2 separate regions of the Homo sapiens genome follow, and region 1 is linked to region 2. Evidence: fine-mapped expression QTL. Tissue or cell type: whole blood. Region 2 holds a variant in brackets; the other region holds the start of a gene. All regions are shown on one strand. Distances are between the middles of the regions.

Region 1 (9,003 bases), 71 kb before region 2:
GTGCACGGCACCATGCCTGGCTAATTTTTTTGTATTTTAGTAGAGACAGGGTTTCACCATGTTGGTCAGGCTGGTCTTGATCTCCTGACCTCGTGATCTGTCCCCCCTCACCCTCCCAAAGTGCTGGGATTACAGGCCTGAGCCACCATGCCCAGCCTCTTTCTTTTCTTTTCTTTTTTCTTTTTTTTTTTTGAGACAGGGTCTCATTCTGTCCCCCAGGCCGGAGTGCAGTGGTATGGCGATCTTGCTCACCGCAGCCTCGACCTCCGGAGCTCAAGTGATCCTCCAGCCTCTGTCCCGTAAGTAGCTGGGATTACAGCCATGCGCCACCACACCTGGCTAATTTTTTGTATTTTTTGTAGAGACAGGGTTTCACTGTGTTGCTCAGGCTGGTGTCAAACTCCCGACTTCAAATGATCTATCCACCTCGGCCTCCCAAAGTGCTGGGATTACAGGCATGGGCCGCCTCGCCTAGTCTACAATTTTTTTTTTTTTTGAGATGGAGTCTGGCTGTGTCGCCTAGGCTGGAGTGCAGTGGCGCAATCTCAGCTCACTACAACCTCTGCTTCCTAGGTTCAAGTGATTCTCCTGCCTCAGCCTCCTGAGTAGCTGAGATTACAGGTGCCAACCACCATGCCCGACTAATTTTTATATTTTAGTAGAGACGCGGTTTCACCATGTTGGCCAGGCTGGTCTCAAATTTCTGACCTCAGGTGATCCTCCCGCCTCAGCCTCTCAAAGTGCTGGGATTACAGGCGTGAGCCACCACGCCCAGCCTACAATTATTTACATTTAATATTGTTAGGCCTATGGTGCCTGGAAGTACATACATGCCTCTTGTCATTAAATAAATCTGTCATTAAGAAGTCAGAAGTCATCTCAAGGAGTCCAAAGGAAGAGACCGTATGAGGAGGTTGTATGTAAATCTCTCTCTTTACAATTGTGGTAAAATACACATAACATAACATTTAACGTCTTAACCGTATTTTTTTTTTTTTGAGACCGAGTCTCACTCTGTCTCCAAGGCCGGAGTGCAGTGGCGCAATCTTGGCTTACTAAAACCTCTGCTTCCTGGGTTCAAGTGATTCTCCTGCCTCAGCCTCCTGAGTAGCTGAGATTACAGGCGCACACCACCACGCCCAGCTAATTTTTGTATTTTAGTAGGGATGGGGTTTCACCATGTTGGTCAGGCTAGTCTCAAACTCTTGAGCTCAAGTGATCTGCCTGCCTCGGCCTCTCAAAGTGCTGGGATTACAGGCATGCGCCACCGCGCCCGGCCGTCGGAACCATTTTCAAGTGCACAGATCAGTGGCATGAAGCACATTCCCAGTGCTGTGCAATCAACACCATCAGCCACCTCCACAATGTTCTCATCTTGCCCAACAGAAACTCTGTCCTTATTCCACAGTAACTCCCGGTCTCCCCTCTCCCAGTCCTCGGCACCCAGCATTCTACCCTCTGTCTCTATGAATCTTACTGACCAAGGGACCCCATAGAAGTGGAATCACATCACATTTGTCTTTCTGTGACCAGCTTATTTCACTGAGCATAATGTCCTCAAAGCTCATCACTTCACATGTCACGTATGTCAGAGTTTCCTTCCTTTTCAAGTCTGAATCATACCCCACTGTATGTGGTACCACAGGGGTAAACGCACACTTGGATTGCTTCCACCTTCTGGATCTCGTGAATAAATAACGCTGCTGTGAACATAGCATGCAAGTATCTCTTCAAGACCCTGCTTGCAATTCTTTGGGGGTATAAACCCAGAAGTGGAAGTCTGCATTGCATCTTATGGGAACTCTAGTTTGTTTATTTATTTATTTATTCGTTTATTTATTGAGACAGAGCTTCGCTCTGTCACCCAGACTGGAGCGCAATGGCATGATCTCAGATCACTGCAACCTCTGCCTTCCAGGTTCAAGCAATCCTCATGCCTTAGCCTCCCGAGCGGCTGGGACAGGTGCCCACCACCACGCCTGGCTCATTTTTTTGTATTTTTGGTAGTGACAGGGTTTCACCGTGTTGGCCAGGCTGGTCTGAAACTCCTAACCTCAGGTGATCACCCATCTGAGCCTCTCAAAGTGCTGGGATTACAGGTGAGAGCCACTGGGCCCGGCCTCGTTTTAACTTTTTGAGGACCCTGCATGCTGTTTCCCACAGAGGCTGCCCTGTGTTCCATTCCCACCAACAGTGTGTGTAAATGCCTTTGCAGGAAATCAGTATCTCCTGCATCCCTCTGCTTCTCTGCACCTCTCTCCTTTCACCTCTCTCGCTGGTCTCCAGCTTCCTGAGCAACCTCCGCCATCACTCTGACCTATTTCCAGTTCAGGATCCCCATGGCCGCTAGAGTGATTGCATTTCAGATACTGCATGTCGGTGTGCCTGCTGTCTTGCACGTAAAGCCCCTCAGTGGCTTCCCATTGCTCTAGGATCAGCCCCAGATCCTATAGGACCCACCTCAGCCCTTCTTCCCTCCTGGTTCAGCTGAACATGGCCACTCGGTTCCACACACAGTGACCACCTGCCTACCCCTCCACGGCCCATACTTCCTTCTGTATCACACAGAGTTCCCTGGCAGGGGCACTACCCTCACAGTCTCACACCACTTCCCTAATCAGGCATCCCTTAGACCTCAAGGAGGAGCCCCCTGACTCTGTTTACCATCCCCCCCACCTCAATCAAGCAGGTACTCAAGTTACTGCTCCTGCTAAAAATGCGTTCCTTGGCCGGTCACGGTGGCTGACGCCTGTAACCCCAGCACTTTGGGAGTCCGAGGCAGGTGGATCATGAGGTCAAGAGATCGAGACAACCCTGGCCAACCTGGTGAAACCCCATCTCTACTAAAAATACAAAAATTACCTGGGCATGGTGGCACACACCTGTAGTACCAGTTACTTGGGAGGCTGAGGCAGGAGGATTGCTTGAACCCTGGAGGCAGAGGTTGCAGTGAGCCGAGATCGCACCACTGCACTCTAGCTTGGCAACAGAGCGAGACTCTGTCTCAAAAAAAAAAAAAAAAAAAAAAAAAAAAAGCTTTCCTTGCCTCCCAAACACTTATCTCTGCATGCACATATTCAAGGCTGAGAGATGAGATTAATACCTATTTCAGCCCCAGACTGGAGCGTGGGTGTGCAGGTCAGGGAAGCTCCTGCCTTAGACAGGCCCAGTCTCTCGTTTACACTTGCACGTCACCATGCACCAGTCCCTCACCGGATGTATCACAGCTGTGACTTGATTTTACTTTTTCTAGGATGTGTCTTTGATTTATGTCTGCATCTCCCCCTCAACTATAAGCTCCACCAGGGAGGGAACTGTGTCTCCTTTCCCACCCTTAATAATTCGTAAATGAGGGAAATGTGGAAACTGCACCGCCTTTTTAGGGGAACCTGAACTGGCAATGGAGGACCAGGCTACTGAAGTCCGAAAGGGATCCCAATGATGCCCACGTTTGCCACTCCCTGTTTTCAGCTAAGATTTCTCTCTGGGGCATTCTCTCAGATCTGTCTTAGCTGGATCTAGCATATTGAATGAGTGAAGGGCTCCAGAAAGAAAGAGAGATAGGCTGGGCGTGGTGGCTCACGCCTGTAACCCAGCATTTGGGGAGGCTGAGGTGGCAGACTGCTTGAGCCCCAAAGTTGAACACCAACTTGGGCAATATAATGAGACCCTGTCTCTATAAAAAAATTGAAAAAGGCCAGGTGAGGCGGCTCCCGCCTGCAGCCCCAGCACTTTAGGAGGTCGAGGCAGGTGGATCACCTGAGGTCAGGAGTTTGAGACCAGCTTCACCAACATGGTTGAAACCCCGTCTCTACTAAAAATACAAAAATTAGCTGGGTGTGGTGGCAGATGCCTGTAATCCCAGCGACTTGGGAGGCTGAGGCAGGAGAATCGGTTGCAGTGAGCCGAGACTGCACCATTACACTCCAGCCTGGGTGACAGATTAAGACTCTGCCTTAAAAAAAAAAAAAATTAAAAATTAGTCGGGCATGGTGGCTCATAGTCCCAGCTACTTGGGAGGGTGAGGTGGGAAAATCACCTGAGCCCTGAAGGTTGAGGCTGCAGTGAGCTATGATTGTACCACTGCACTCCAGCCTGGGTGACAGAGTGAGACCCTGTCTCAAAAGAAAAAGACAAGAAAGAGAGAGAAGGAAGGAAGGGAGGGAGGGAGGGAAAGAAAGGAAGGAAGGAAGGAAGGAAGGAAGGAAGGAAGGAAGGAAGGAAGGAAGGAAGGCAGGCAGGCGGCCGGGCACGGTGGCTCCCGCCTGTAATCCCAGGACTTTGGGAGGCTGAGGCGGGCAGATCACCTGAGGTCGGGTTTTCAGGACTAGTCTGACCAACACGGAGAAACCCCATCTCTACTAAAAAAATACAAAATGAGCCGGGCCTGGTGGTACATGACTGTAATCCCAGCTACTTGGGAGGCTGAGGCAGGAGAATTGCTTGAATCCAGGGGGTGGAGGTTGCGTTGAGTCGAGATTGCGCCATTGCACTACAGCCTGGGCAACAAGAGCGAAACTCCGTCTCAAAAAAAAAAAAAAAGAAGGAAGGAAGGAAGGGAAGAAAGAAAGGAAGGAAGGAAGGAAAGGAGGAAGGAAGGAAGGAAGGAAAGGAAGGAAGGAAATGGAGGGAGGAAGGGAGGGAGGGAAGGAAGGAAAGGAAGGAAGGAAGGAAAGGAAAGGAAGGAAGGGAAGGAAAGGAAGGAAGGGAAGGGAAGGAAGGAGAGGAAGGGAAGGGAGGGAGGAAGGGAAGGAAGGAAGGAAAGAAGGGAGGGAGGGAAGGAAGGAAGGAAAGGAAGGAAGGAAAGGAAAGGAAGGAAGGAAAGGGAGGGAGGAAGGAAGAGAGGGAGGGAAGGAAGGAAGGAAAGGAAGGAAGGGAAGGGAAAGAAGGAGAGGAAGGGAAGGGAGGGAGGAAGGGAAGGAAGGAAGGAAGGAAAGAAGGGAGGGAAGGAAGGAATGAAGGGAAGGGAAGGAATGAAGGGAAGGAAGGGAAGGAAGGAAGGAAGGAAAGAAGGAAGGAAGGATGGATCAGGGATTCAGGGATGGATCTCAAGTGGTCTTCAGTTACAGTAGAGTATGATGACCTTTAATCTGAGGGCTTAAGAATGATCAGGCCTGGCACTGTGGCTCACACGGGTAATCCCAGTGCTTTGGGAGGTCGAGATAGATAGATCACTTGAGACCAGGAGTTTGAGACCAGCCTGGCCAACATAGCAAGACCCTGTCTCTATAAGAAGTAAAAAAATTAGCTGGGCGTGGTGGCACTTGTGAGGCAGAGGCAGGAGGGTGACTTGGGCACAGGAGGTGGAAGCTGCAGTGAGCTATGATTTTGCCACCGCACTGCAGCCTGGGCGACAGAGCGAGGTTAGAATATAAACATATGTATTGTATATAATACACATATATTTTATCTTCTGTCTATCTTACACTTTAGGGTTGGGGGCCTGGAGTGTCTGGGGCGGGGAGACTGCTGAGGTCATCCGTCCCTTTCTCCAATGACCCAGGCTCAAAACTTTGTGGCTGGGCATTTCAGGGGTCCCCTCTTCCCCCTGGATGGAGGAAAGGGCGCCCGCCGCCTGCAGCCCCGCGGGGAGGGGACGAGGTGCGCCGGGCCCAGCTCTCCCGGGGGCCCGCCGGCCCTCCCGGCACAGGCCTCGCCCCCAGCCCCGCGCTGGCGCGCGCCACGTGGGCTACGCTGGGCGGGACCGGCGGGCGGGCGAGGCGAGGCGCACGGTGGGCTGGGAGGCTCCGCTCCGCGCCGGCGCGATCTGGCCCGGGTTTCCGCGCCCGCCCAGCGCCCCGACCTCCCCGCCCCCCGCGCCGCCGCTGCAGCCGCCGCCGCCGGAGGCCGCTCGGAGCCGCGCGAACATGGCCGAAGTCGGCGAGGACAGCGGCGCCCGCGCCCTGCTCGCGCTGCGCTCGGCGCCCTGCAGCCCAGTGCTGTGCGCCGCAGCCGCCGCCGCCGCCTTCCCCGCGGCCGCACCCCCGCCGGCCCCCGCGCAGCCCCAGCCTCCGCCCGGGCCGCCGCCGCCGCCGCCACCGCCGCTGCCTCCGGGCGCGATCGCGGGCGCGGGCTCCTCCGGGGGCTCCTCCGGGGTATCCGGGGACTCCGCGGTCGCGGGCGCGGCGCCGGCCCTGGTGGCCGCGGCGGCCGCCTCGGTACGGCAGAGCCCGGGGCCGGCGCTGGCGCGGCTGGAGGGCCGCGAGTTCGAGTTCCTCATGCGCCAGCCCAGCGTCACCATCGGCCGCAACTCGTCGCAGGGCTCGGTGGACTTGAGCATGGGCCTGTCCAGCTTCATCTCGCGGCGCCACCTGCAGCTCAGCTTCCAGGAGCCGCACTTCTACCTGCGCTGCCTCGGCAAGAACGGCGTCTTCGTGGACGGGGCCTTCCAGAGACGCGGCGCGCCCGCCCTGCAGCTGCCCAAGCAGTGAGTGGCCCCGCGACCCCCGCCGCCCGCACCCGGGGCTCGCCCACGACCTCGATCTCTGAGGCCCGGGCCTGGGGATCCCCCTCCAGCTTCCTCGGCCTCGACCCCCACCCCCCGGCCCACCCCCGGTAACCCCCGACCGGCCTGGACTCCGGGGTCAACCCCGACCCCCGCCTCCTGGCTCCCTAGGATCACCCCGACCCCGATCCTGGAGGCTCCAGCCTGAGGATCTCCTCCACTTTCCCCGGTCTGGATACCCCGTCGCCCCCGACCCCCACCGGCCTGGACTCTGGGGTCAGCCCTGACCCACACCTTGCGGCTCCTGGGGTCACCCCTGACCTCATCTCCCACCGGCCTGGGCTCCTGGAGCCACCCATACCCCAAGCCCATCTGGCTGGGCCTCTTAGACCCCTGACCCAGATCCCTGCTGCTCCCCAGCTCCCATCGGCCTGGACTCCGGGGTCATTCTGAACTCCCACTGGCCTGGATCCCTGGGGTCATCTACGTCCCTACCCTGCCTAAACACGCAAGGTTAACCGCGACCCCCACTTCCTAGGCCCCCCCGGAGTCACCCCTGACCGCTAACCCCACAAGCCTGGGCTCGCAGGGCCACTCCCACCCCAGCTCCACCCAGCTGGGTTACTGAGGTCACCTTGACCCCAGTCCCTGCTGCCTGGGCCTGGGGATCACCCTCAACCCTTCCAGGTCACCCTGGACCCCCACCAGCTTGGACTCCAGGGTCACCCCAGCCTGACCTGGTTCTCAGGACCACCCCCGACCCCCACCAGCCAGGGCCTCAAGTCACCCCAGTGCCTGATGCCTGCCGTCCTGGACCCCAGTGGCTACCCCTGACCCTGTCTGGTCTGGACCCTTGGGCCACCCCCACCCCATCCAGTCTGGGTCCTGGGGGACCCCAACACACTCACCCAGGACAGTGGGAGGGTGTTGCTCCGGGAAGTGCGAGGTCCCTAGGAGTGTGGGCTGTGCTGAAGGAGCAGAGGCCTGGCGGGGAGGGGCGAGGACAGGAAGCCTGTGCCTCAGTTTACATCCCCAACTAGTGCTCCTTGGATGGAGTAGCGGGACCCCAAGATCAAATTAGATTCCCCCGGGCCCGAGGTCACCAGGGCAGAGAGACCCAGCTGGGCCTGGACGGCTGCCCAGGCCTGTCGGTGCCTTTGGTAGCATCCCGTGGTCACCTCCCGCCCATTCCGGTTCCCTCCTTTCCAGCTCCACTGCCCTCCGCACCCTCTGCTCTGCCCCGGACCTCAAGGTCTGTTGATCAGGAGAAAGCCTGTTTAATTACTCATTTCCTCTGGAGCCACTTTCTTTTTCTATTTAGTGATTGCCTCTAACTCATCACCAGTGTTTATATTTCTTCAATGTGGTTCTTGTTCAGGGTTGTCTGTCTAATTACTCCCTTTTATAAACGCCTTGCGTCTGGGGAATTTTTGCTGGGGTAATTCCCAGGGCCCAAAGTTTGTGTCTGTAAACTTCTCCCCTTTTTTAGTCTTGGCATGTTTGGTTACAGATATCGCATTGAATAATTTAAAATGCAACATCAACAATGACTCACTCCCCCTTGGGGCGTGAGAGGGGAAGTATACCTTTTTCTAACCGTGCTGAAAGGTGTGCATTTTGGTAAAATCAGAACTCAGGAGATAACAAATTTGTTCTTTGCCTCAGATATTAGTGTGTTCTCTCTCTTCCATAACCAATACACTCTCTCCGTTTGGGGCCATTAAATGCATTTCCTGGCCACTCTCCCCTCCAGTAAGAAAATGACAGGTAGGCTCCCCAGGCCCCCCTTAGAGGCCTGCTTTACAGACGCACCTTTATATAACTCAGGTTCACTAAGTACTTCCATTAAAGTCTTGTTTTCAGGTTTCCTGCCCCTGCCGTGGAAACAGGTGCACTCCTGAGTCAGGCCCAGCTTTAGTGAATCTTGAAGGAGGCTTTCACGGTATTTTTTTTTTGTAATTCAAGGGGAAAAAATTTCAACCTCAGATCGTCTACGAATAGGCCAGTAGCAAGCCTGTTATTTATGAAATGTTATCGGTGTATACAGTCCTTGCACATTTATGCTCCAGGGAGCTCGTGTTCTCGGTGGGTGCATTACCAGGCATTGTGGTGGGGCTGTCAGGCTACACAGATGCCCGCCCGCTGACTTGGTGCATTAGATGTGCGTGAAGTGCTTGGCCCACTGCGCCTGTCTGTTTTTATTTGACTTCACCTGCACATGTGAGCAATATCTATGTAGGCAGCAATGTAAAATTTACAAGAACAAAGCAAATGTGCAGAAGGAAAAACATTAAGTGGATGTCCATGTCCACCCTCCTAGAAAAGAGCTATTTGCTTTTTTTTTTTTTTTTTTTTCTGTCATGGAGTCTCGCTCTGTTGTCCAGACTGGAGTGCAGTGGCTCACTGCAAACTCTACCTCCCGGGTTCAAGAGATTCTCCTGCCTCAGCCTCCTGAGTGGCTGGGACTACAGGCGCACAACACCACGCCCAGCTAATTCTTTGTATTTTTAGTAGAGATGGGGTTTCACCGTGTTAGCCAAGATGGTCTCGATCTCCTG
Region 2 (8,000 bases):
TCTTGTTCTGACACCCAGGCCGGAGTGCAGTGGTCCGGTCACGGCTCGCTGCAGCCTCGACCTCCGGGACTCAAGCGATCCTCCCACCTCAGCCGTGACTACAGGAGCAATCCACTAGTTAATTTTTAAAAATAGCTTCCCAGCATTTTACAATGTCGGATTTATCTTAAAGGAACACATTCTTTAAGATCATTCTAAGAAATTCGCCTCTGAAAATTTTCTTTCCCTATTTGTTTATTTTTCCTTTTTCAGATTACGAAGAGACTATCTATCTATCTATATGCATCTTACAAAATGCAAACATTTCAGAAAGTGAAAATTCCCCCACACAACGCTCCCCAGAGCTGAGCCCTTCTCTCTCACTTCTGTGTCTCTGAGTCGTATTCGTACGTGACTGTCTCTTGGTTTTTCCGTTTTAGATATTACACATGAGGTTCCTATATGGAAATTAAGGATTTAGCTTCCCCCCTCCCCATCCCAGTAAAGTTACATCATCATGTCTGGTTTACCTTGCATGAGCGTTTTCTGTATTAGAACTGTGTAGTGATTGTAGCGCTTAGCCATTTCCTTCCTTGTACTTTTGGCTTATTTCCGCCACACTCCCCCCGCTCTTGGGGTTAATAATGGCCTCTTCTCCCTTTACTGTGAAGGCCTTCCTCTGGGGCCCCTCTGACCATGGGATCATCTTCTCCACCATCCTGGGAATCCCCTCAGGAGGTGGTGGTGGAGAGAGGGCTGTTTCCTGATTCCCACGTCTTCCTCTTTCCTGATTTGTTCCTTTGTTTTACCAGAGTCCATCCCCCAGTCGCTTCCTGGGAAAGGGCACAGGAGACAGACTTTTCATTTATTCACTGATTTAAGAGACAAGGTCTCACTTTGTTGCCCAGGCTGGTACTTCTGGGCTCAAGCGAGCCTCCTGCCTCAGCCTCCCGAGTAGTAGGGACTACAGGTGTGCACCACCATGCCCGGCTAATTTTTGTATTTTTTGTAGAGGTGGGGTCTCCCCATGTTGCCCAGGCTGGTCTTGAACTCCTGTGCTCAAGTTATCTGCCCACCTCAGCCTCCCAAAGCGCTGGGATTACAGGTGTGAGCCACCTCGCCTGGACCCCCAGGTTCCTGTCCACGCTTCTGGGACTGGCTGTGCCTGGCGGGCCTCTGAGCTGAGTCTCTCATGCCTCTCCTTTCCTTTCTCTCTCTACTTTCTGAGGGATTTTCTCCAGTCTCTCCTTCCACCCTTTCTTGGATTTGTATTTCTCTTCTTTTGAATTCTTATTTTTTAATTTGAAGAGCGTGTTCTTGCTCTGCAGGTGTGCTTTGCATGCTGTTCTTACTGTCCTACAGAGACGGCATCGTTACCTCCCTAGGGACGGGAACCATGTTTCATCTCCTCCCAAGCTCCCGTAGGCTTCCCTGGGTCCCTCTTCTCTTCTGTTTTGCACCATGTTCCACCTGGTAGAAGCTTCCTCAAACCACAGATGTGCCTTGGCCGGCTGTTGTGTTTAACAGTGAGGTCCTAAAAACCCTCTTAGAGCGGCTGGTATTGGAGCAGGGGCTGGGGCAGGGACCCCAAGCGTCCTCCTCTGCAGGGAGGTTCCCCCAGGAGGCTTCAGGTGCCGCCTTGGGACGCAAAGGTCATCGCAGACCCCCGCAGCCTTCTCGCCCCTCCACTGCCCACAAGGCTCCGTCGCAGCTCCTTCCTCCAGCCCCTCCAGGCGGGTCCCTCTGTGTCTCTAGGGCTTCAGGAGGGATCAGGTCCCTTCTGACAGAGCACTGTCCTCCCTGGGCCTGCCGGAAGCGATAACTGTCCCGACCCTAGGCCTCTCAGGGTGGCCTTCTCAGCCTCAGAGCAGAGCCAAGGGCATTGAGGGTGGACTGGAAGGACCGCAGCCCTGTGCCCTGGGGAAGGCTTGTCTTAGGCTCTGGGGACGGAGCCCAGCTGGCGGCTCCAGAGGTGGCTTTAGGTCTGTTGTTGGATTTGCCTTTCTCAGCGTGACTTCTCATCATAACGTGACCCAGCGACCTGTGTGTCCCACAGCCCGTCCGTCCCTCTGCAGTCTCCCTGCACTGGCATGTCCTGGGTGGTCCCAGTGGCACCTTCTAGGCCCGGCCCCTGGATGCGGTGGAGGCTGCCCGGGGTGGGTCAGCATGGGGTTGTCCCTGTGAGCACAGCTCCGGGAGACCCGTACTCAGAATCCTCCAGCTCTCTCGCCTGAGGCGGAAATGTGACTTGGGAATTGTCCTCCATATAAAGGAAGCAAAATCAGGGCCTAGGGGTGAGCTGCTTACTGTGCTTCTTCCCTCTCTCAGCCTCCAATCGGGGGGCACAGGCGTTTGATTCCCGCGACGTCTGTGGGCTGTCACTGTCCAGCCTCTGCGTCCCACACCTGGGCAGCTAGGGACTGGGGGGGGCCTGACCGAGGCCTGGGGTACTTACCCCAGAAGGAGTGATTCCCTGTTTCCTGGAATTGAGCTGGTGGTCCCTGTCAGGGAGCAGTGGGGTCCCCTCAGCTTCCTGCTCTTTCTCATTCCCGCAGGAGGAAATGTGTGCACGTGTATGCCGTCGTTTTCAGCACTTTTTTTTTTTTTTTGAGACAGAATCTCGCTCTGTCGCCCAGGCTGGAGTGCAGTGGCACGATCTCTGCTCACTGCAAGCTCCGCCTCCCAGGTTCACGCCATTCTCCTGCCTCAGCCTCCCAAGTAGCTGGGACTACAAGTGCCCGCCACCACACCCAGCTAATTTTGTTTTCTGTATTTTTTAGTAGAGACAGGATTTCACCGTGTTAGCCAGGATGGTCTCGATCTCCTAACCTCGTCATCCACCCGCCTCGGTCTCCCATCTTTTTTTTTTTGAGACAGAGTTTCACTCTTGTTGTCCAGGCTGGAGTACAATGGCATAATCTCGGCTCACTGCAACCTCTGCCTCCCGGGTTCAAGCAATTCTCCTTCCTCAGCCTCCCGAGTAGCTGGGATTACAGGCATGCACCACCACGTCTGGCTGATTTTGCATTTTCAGTAGAGACGGGATTTCTCTAAATCGGGCAGGCTGGTCTCGAACTCCTGACCTTAGGTGATCTGCCCACCTCGGCCCCCTCAAAGTGCTGGGATTACAGGCGTGAGCCACCGTGCCTGGCCTTCAGCACTTTTTTTTTTTTTTTTTTTTGAGATGGAGTCTTGCTCTGTCGCCCAGGCTGGAGTGCAGTGGCGCAATCTCGACTCACTGCAAACTCCACCTCCCAGGTTCATGCCATTCTCCTGCCTCAGCCTCCAGAGTAGCTGGTACTACAGGCACCTGCCACCATGCCCGGCTAATTTTTTGTATTTTTTTTTTAGTAGAGACGGGGTTTCACTGTGTTAGCCAGGATGGTCTCGCTCTCCTGACCTCATGATCCACCCTCCTCGGGTAATCCCAAAAGCATTGGGATTACCAATCCCAAAGCACTGGGATTACAAGCGTGAGCCACCGTGCCCGGCCCAGCATTTTCTTTAGATTGCTAAGGGAATGTTTCCGTGGACTCCCAGCATCAGACATGGGATGTCTTGATTAGTTTTCCGGATGGCTCCAAGGCCTCTGGCTTTGGAGCTGGGTGTCCCATCCCACCCTGGCTGGGCGCCCTCAGACCTGTCTTCCCCCAGGGCACTTTACAGCTCTTAGCGGCTGTGAGGCTCGAGCAGCCTCTGCTTCCCGCCTCCGTCAGCTGCAGGCCTGGTATCGGGGGCCTTGGTATCAGGAGCCTGGTACCAGGCACAGCCCCGTGGCCGAGGCCCGCCTGCGGAGGACAGTTGAATGGGGCTTATTGAGAGACGGGCTGCTCCGAGGGCTGGAGGAGCCATGTGAACAAACACATGTGGTCCCTCAGCCCAGGTGGCTGGAAAACCTCAGAAGCTGCGCTGTCGTACCTGTCCCGGCTGGAGTGACACCAGGATCCGGCAGCCCAGGCCAGGTCCAGTGCTGGGGAAAGTGGCGGAGAAACCACCCTACTCTCTCGCCTGTGGGAGCCAGGCTTCGCCAACCTTTCTTATTTCCACTTGAAATCATTCTCTGGGGAATGACAACTTTTCCTGTGGGTTTTACTCCATGAGGTTTTTTGTTTGTTTTTTGAGATAAGGTCTCACTCTGTTGCCCAGGCTAGAGTGCAGTGGTGTGATCATAGCTCACTGCAGCCTCGACCTCCCAGGCTCAAGCCATCTTCCTGCCTCAGCCTCCTGAACAGCTGGAACTGCAGGTGTGCATTACCACGCCCAGCTAATTTTTAAAATGTTAAAACTTTGTTTATTTATGTATTTATTTATTTATTTTTAGAGACAGGGTCTTGCTCCGCCAGAGTGCAGTGGCACAATTATAGCTCACTGTAGCCTCAAACTCCTAGGCTCAAGCAGTCCTCCTGCCTCAGC[C/A]TCCTGAGTAGCTGAGACTACAGGTGCACACCACCACACCTGTCTAATGTTAATATTTTTGTAGAGATGGGGGTGTCACTATGTTGCCCAGGCTAGTTTCGACCATGTGGGCTCAAGCGATCCTCCTGCCTGGGCCTCCCAAATTGCTGGGCTTACAGGCATGAGCCACCGCACCCGGCAGACATGAATTTTCTATGATCTTCTGCAAAATAACTGCTGGGAACAGGAGCAGGTCCCTGCCACACGTGCTGGGCCATCACTGTTTGTTGTGGAGTGCTGGGGGGTGCCCCTCATTGGTCCTCAGGAAGGATCCAGGAGCCCGCCTGCCACCTCATGGGCCTCGGATGAGATTTTCCGAGCTGAGTGGCCATTCCCCAGCCTGTGGCCGGAGATCAGAGTGTATGTGAGTGACACCTCGGCTCAGTGGTCCCCAGCAAGGACTGACATTTCAGTTCTTCCTGCTGAGTCCAAGGGGGACGTCCAGTGGCTTTGGGTCTGGGACCGGGTGCACAGGCGTGTGCTGGCCCCATTGTCTGCAGCCCCTCCGGCCATGAGGCCATCCTGCCTCAGCAGGGAGGTGTTTGGTTCCCAGAGGCCTTTGACAAAGCCGATTTTGGGGGCTGTGTGCTGTTACCAGTCAAAACCTTTCTCTCCCCTTCTCATCTTACTTGTAAACTTGGGTTTTGTATTTTGGATTCAGAACTAAATTCAGAAAAGGTTTCCTTTTGACTGTTTCCTACCTCGATCGAGCCATTTGTGGGTGTTCATTTAAGTTTCGACACGTGTGGAACTTACCTATCTCTGCCATATTTGGGGAGTCCGTTGTAAGAGAGAATGGGAATTCCAGATCAGAGTCCTTAACGTTCCATGTGGGTGACACTGAGTCCTTCCTGAAAATGCCCCAGACCTGAACTGATCATTAATGTCAGCTGTCAGGTTTTTCTCAGCCACAGGATTTTTTTCATTCATTCCTCTGCTCCATCCAAAAAATGTTTCTTGAGCCCCGCCTGCACCCAAGGGGGCTCCTACTTAACCTAAGTTTTGGAGATCTAGGAGTCTTGTGCCTGGACAGTTAGGGAAGGATGTTCCTGGCAGAGGAAAGGGCAGCAAGGCGGGAGGAGGAGAATGGACCTTCTGGATGGTTCTGGATGGTTCTGGGTGGTTCTGGATGGTTCTGGGTGGCCTGCAGGGCAGTGCAGCAGGGAGCATCCTACCCGCCACGGGGGCTCTAAGTCAGCTGAGAGGGGGGATGTCAGCATCACAGGTGGGCAGGGTCCATCTCAGGACGGGGCTAGGTGGGTGCCCGTGAGCTCAGGACAGTGGGATCTCTTTCTCTCGGGAGGTTCTGCACCCACTCTTCGTGTCTTCATTGGCTTTCTCTGAATACCTGTAATAGAAATCATTTTCAGAAGCAAAACATCGCCGTGGTTTGCTGACGGAAGCCTGCCTTAGTGAGTTAGGGAAGCAGGCCAGAGCACACCCCTCAGCCGGACGGACGCAGCCTCCTGCCTGTGGTCCCGGCCTCAACCCAGAGCCTCACCTGCAGCCGGGGGTGTCGGTCACTCCCAGCCATCTGTGGTTGCTCCAGCCTGGGAGGGAGAGGGGATGAGGGCAGGGGCATCTCAGCGGCTCAGGGCAAAACTGCAGGGGTCATCTCTTCCCGAGGGCGGTGTCTCCAGGAGAGCCACCTGCCACGCCTTCACCCTGCAGGGCGATGGCACCTCCACAGCCTCTTTCCAGGATCTGCCTCTGTGACCACACGGGGTTGTCCTGGGCCCGAGCCTTTTCCCACAGCGCCGCCTTGTGGACACCTGTGCAGGAGCCAGCAGCCCGCGGAGGCTACCTGCTCCGGGTGCACATCCTGTAGGGGTGTGTGTGGGGGGACCTGAGGAGGGGCCCCACAGAGCTGCCTGACCAGGTGCTGCCCTGGGCCCTGCATAATGGCAGGAGGAGGGCCCGCGGTGCTCTCAGCCCCCGAGCAGAAGTCACCACTGGAAGGAAACTTGCCTGCCGTTTCCAGCATCTTGTCCCCGCCGCTGCGTGACCTTGGCCGGGCAGTGTGGTGGCACTTAAAATTGGAAAGTGTGAGCTTCTTCCCCACAGCCCCACCCTCTGGGTAGGTCCTGAAGCCCTGAGCCCCACAGGGGCCCCCTCTTCAGAGCCATGAACTTACAGTGTCCTTCTCTCTCCTCAGTGTCCCCAACTCCTGCCCAGCCAGTCCACGCGGTGCCGGCTCCTCCAGTTACCGCTTTGTGCAGAACGTGACCTCGGACCTGCAGCTGGCAGCAGAGTTTGCAGCAAAGGCCGCGTCGGAGCAGCAGGCAGACACGTCTGGAGGAGACAGCCCCAAGGTCTGAGCCCACCTGGCGCCGTGGTGCACCTGGTGACCCAGGATCGGGCCATAGTGACCCGGCGCGGGCGGCACAGACAGCCCAGGGCCTGCGGGCGTGTGCTCGAGGTGGTCTCAGCCCACAGGGAATGGAGCCGCAGCTGGCGGTAGAGCCGTCGGCCCTTTCTCGTTTTCGTGCCCAAATCATCCCCGTTGGTCATTTGCTGGTGACAGGGGTGGCGCCGTCACCGAGGGCCCCTCCCGCCACGCTCCTTGTTCATCTGCCGCTGGCAGCCCGGCGTCAAAGCCTTCATACAGCCCTTGAGCAGGATGGCGTTCTCCTTATAACTTTGTCTTAGTTCATTTTTGTCCAATAGCTGTTTTCAAATTGATTTCTGGAAGAGGTGAGAAATTTCAGAATTAAATTATAATAAAACCGAAGTTTTCCTTCCCATGAGGCAAAAATGGTTGTTCCTAGTTGAATGCAAGCACATTAATGGGATAGTTGGAGGGCACTGGGACGGGTGCCGGCAAGACGCGCACATTCTCGTGGGAAGGTTCCTCCCCATCAGCTGTGACGGGTGGGTGGGGTAGACTCAGGGACCTTGCTGGAGCTCATCCCGTGAGCCGTGTTTCTCCGCAGGATGAGTCAAAGCCGCCGTTCTCCTACGCGCAGCTGATCGTGCAGGCCATCTCCTCCGCCCAGGACCGGCAGCTGACCCTGAGCGGGATCTACGCCCACATCACCAAGCATTACCCCTACTACCGGACGGCCGACAAAGGCTGGCAGGTGAAGCCGAGTCCCCAGGGCCGGATCGCCTCTGAAGGCCCTTAGAACATGGAACTCACAGGCATATTGCTTCCCTTAAAACAGAAGAGGGCCAGTGAGGGGGCTCACGCCTGGAACCCTAGCATTTTGTGAGGCCGAGGCAGGAGGAGGATCAAGACCAGCCTGTGCAACATAGAGAGAACCTCTTTTCTACTAAAAATTAGCTGAGTGTGGTGGTGCACACCTGTGGTCGCAGCTACTCGGAGGCTGAGGTGGGAGGATCACTTGAGCCCAGGAGGTGGAGGCTGCAGTGAGCTATGATCACACCACTGCACTCCAGCCTGGGAGACAGAGAAAGACCCTGTGTCTACAAAGAAAAAAAATATCTTTTTAACTAAGAAGATAAATATAAAAGAGGGATGTTTTCACGAATGGCATATGGTACATCTGAAAGGCATTAGCGCTGTGATACCATTGTGTCTAAATACTCTTTTTTATTAGTTTCCTTCT

What was found. PIP is the estimated chance that this variant, and not a neighbour inherited with it, causes the effect.
Region 1: it holds the start of FOXK1, and the variant in region 2 is fine-mapped to the expression of FOXK1 in whole blood (INTERVAL, PIP 0.90).

What each region holds. Positions count from the first base shown.
Region 1 is chr7:4,676,442-4,685,444 of GRCh38, forward strand. It overlaps FOXK1 (forkhead box K1), which reads left to right and starts at 5,854. Exons shown (of 9, transcript NM_001037165.2): 1 at 5,854-6,427. The coding sequence starts at 5,868. RefSeq lists enhancers at 4,855-5,355, 5,557-5,851, 6,711-7,238 and silencers at 5,565-5,934, 6,085-6,154.
Region 2 is chr7:4,747,873-4,755,872 of GRCh38, forward strand. It overlaps FOXK1 (forkhead box K1), which reads left to right. Exons shown (of 9, transcript NM_001037165.2): 3 at 6,587-6,743; 4 at 7,365-7,511. Among named protein-coding and RNA genes, the nearest start is that of AP5Z1, 24 kb to the right of the region's middle. RefSeq lists enhancers at 1,972-2,471, 5,880-6,434, 5,939-6,028 and a silencer at 6,026-6,320. The variant C/A (reference allele first, on the strand shown) is at 4,393.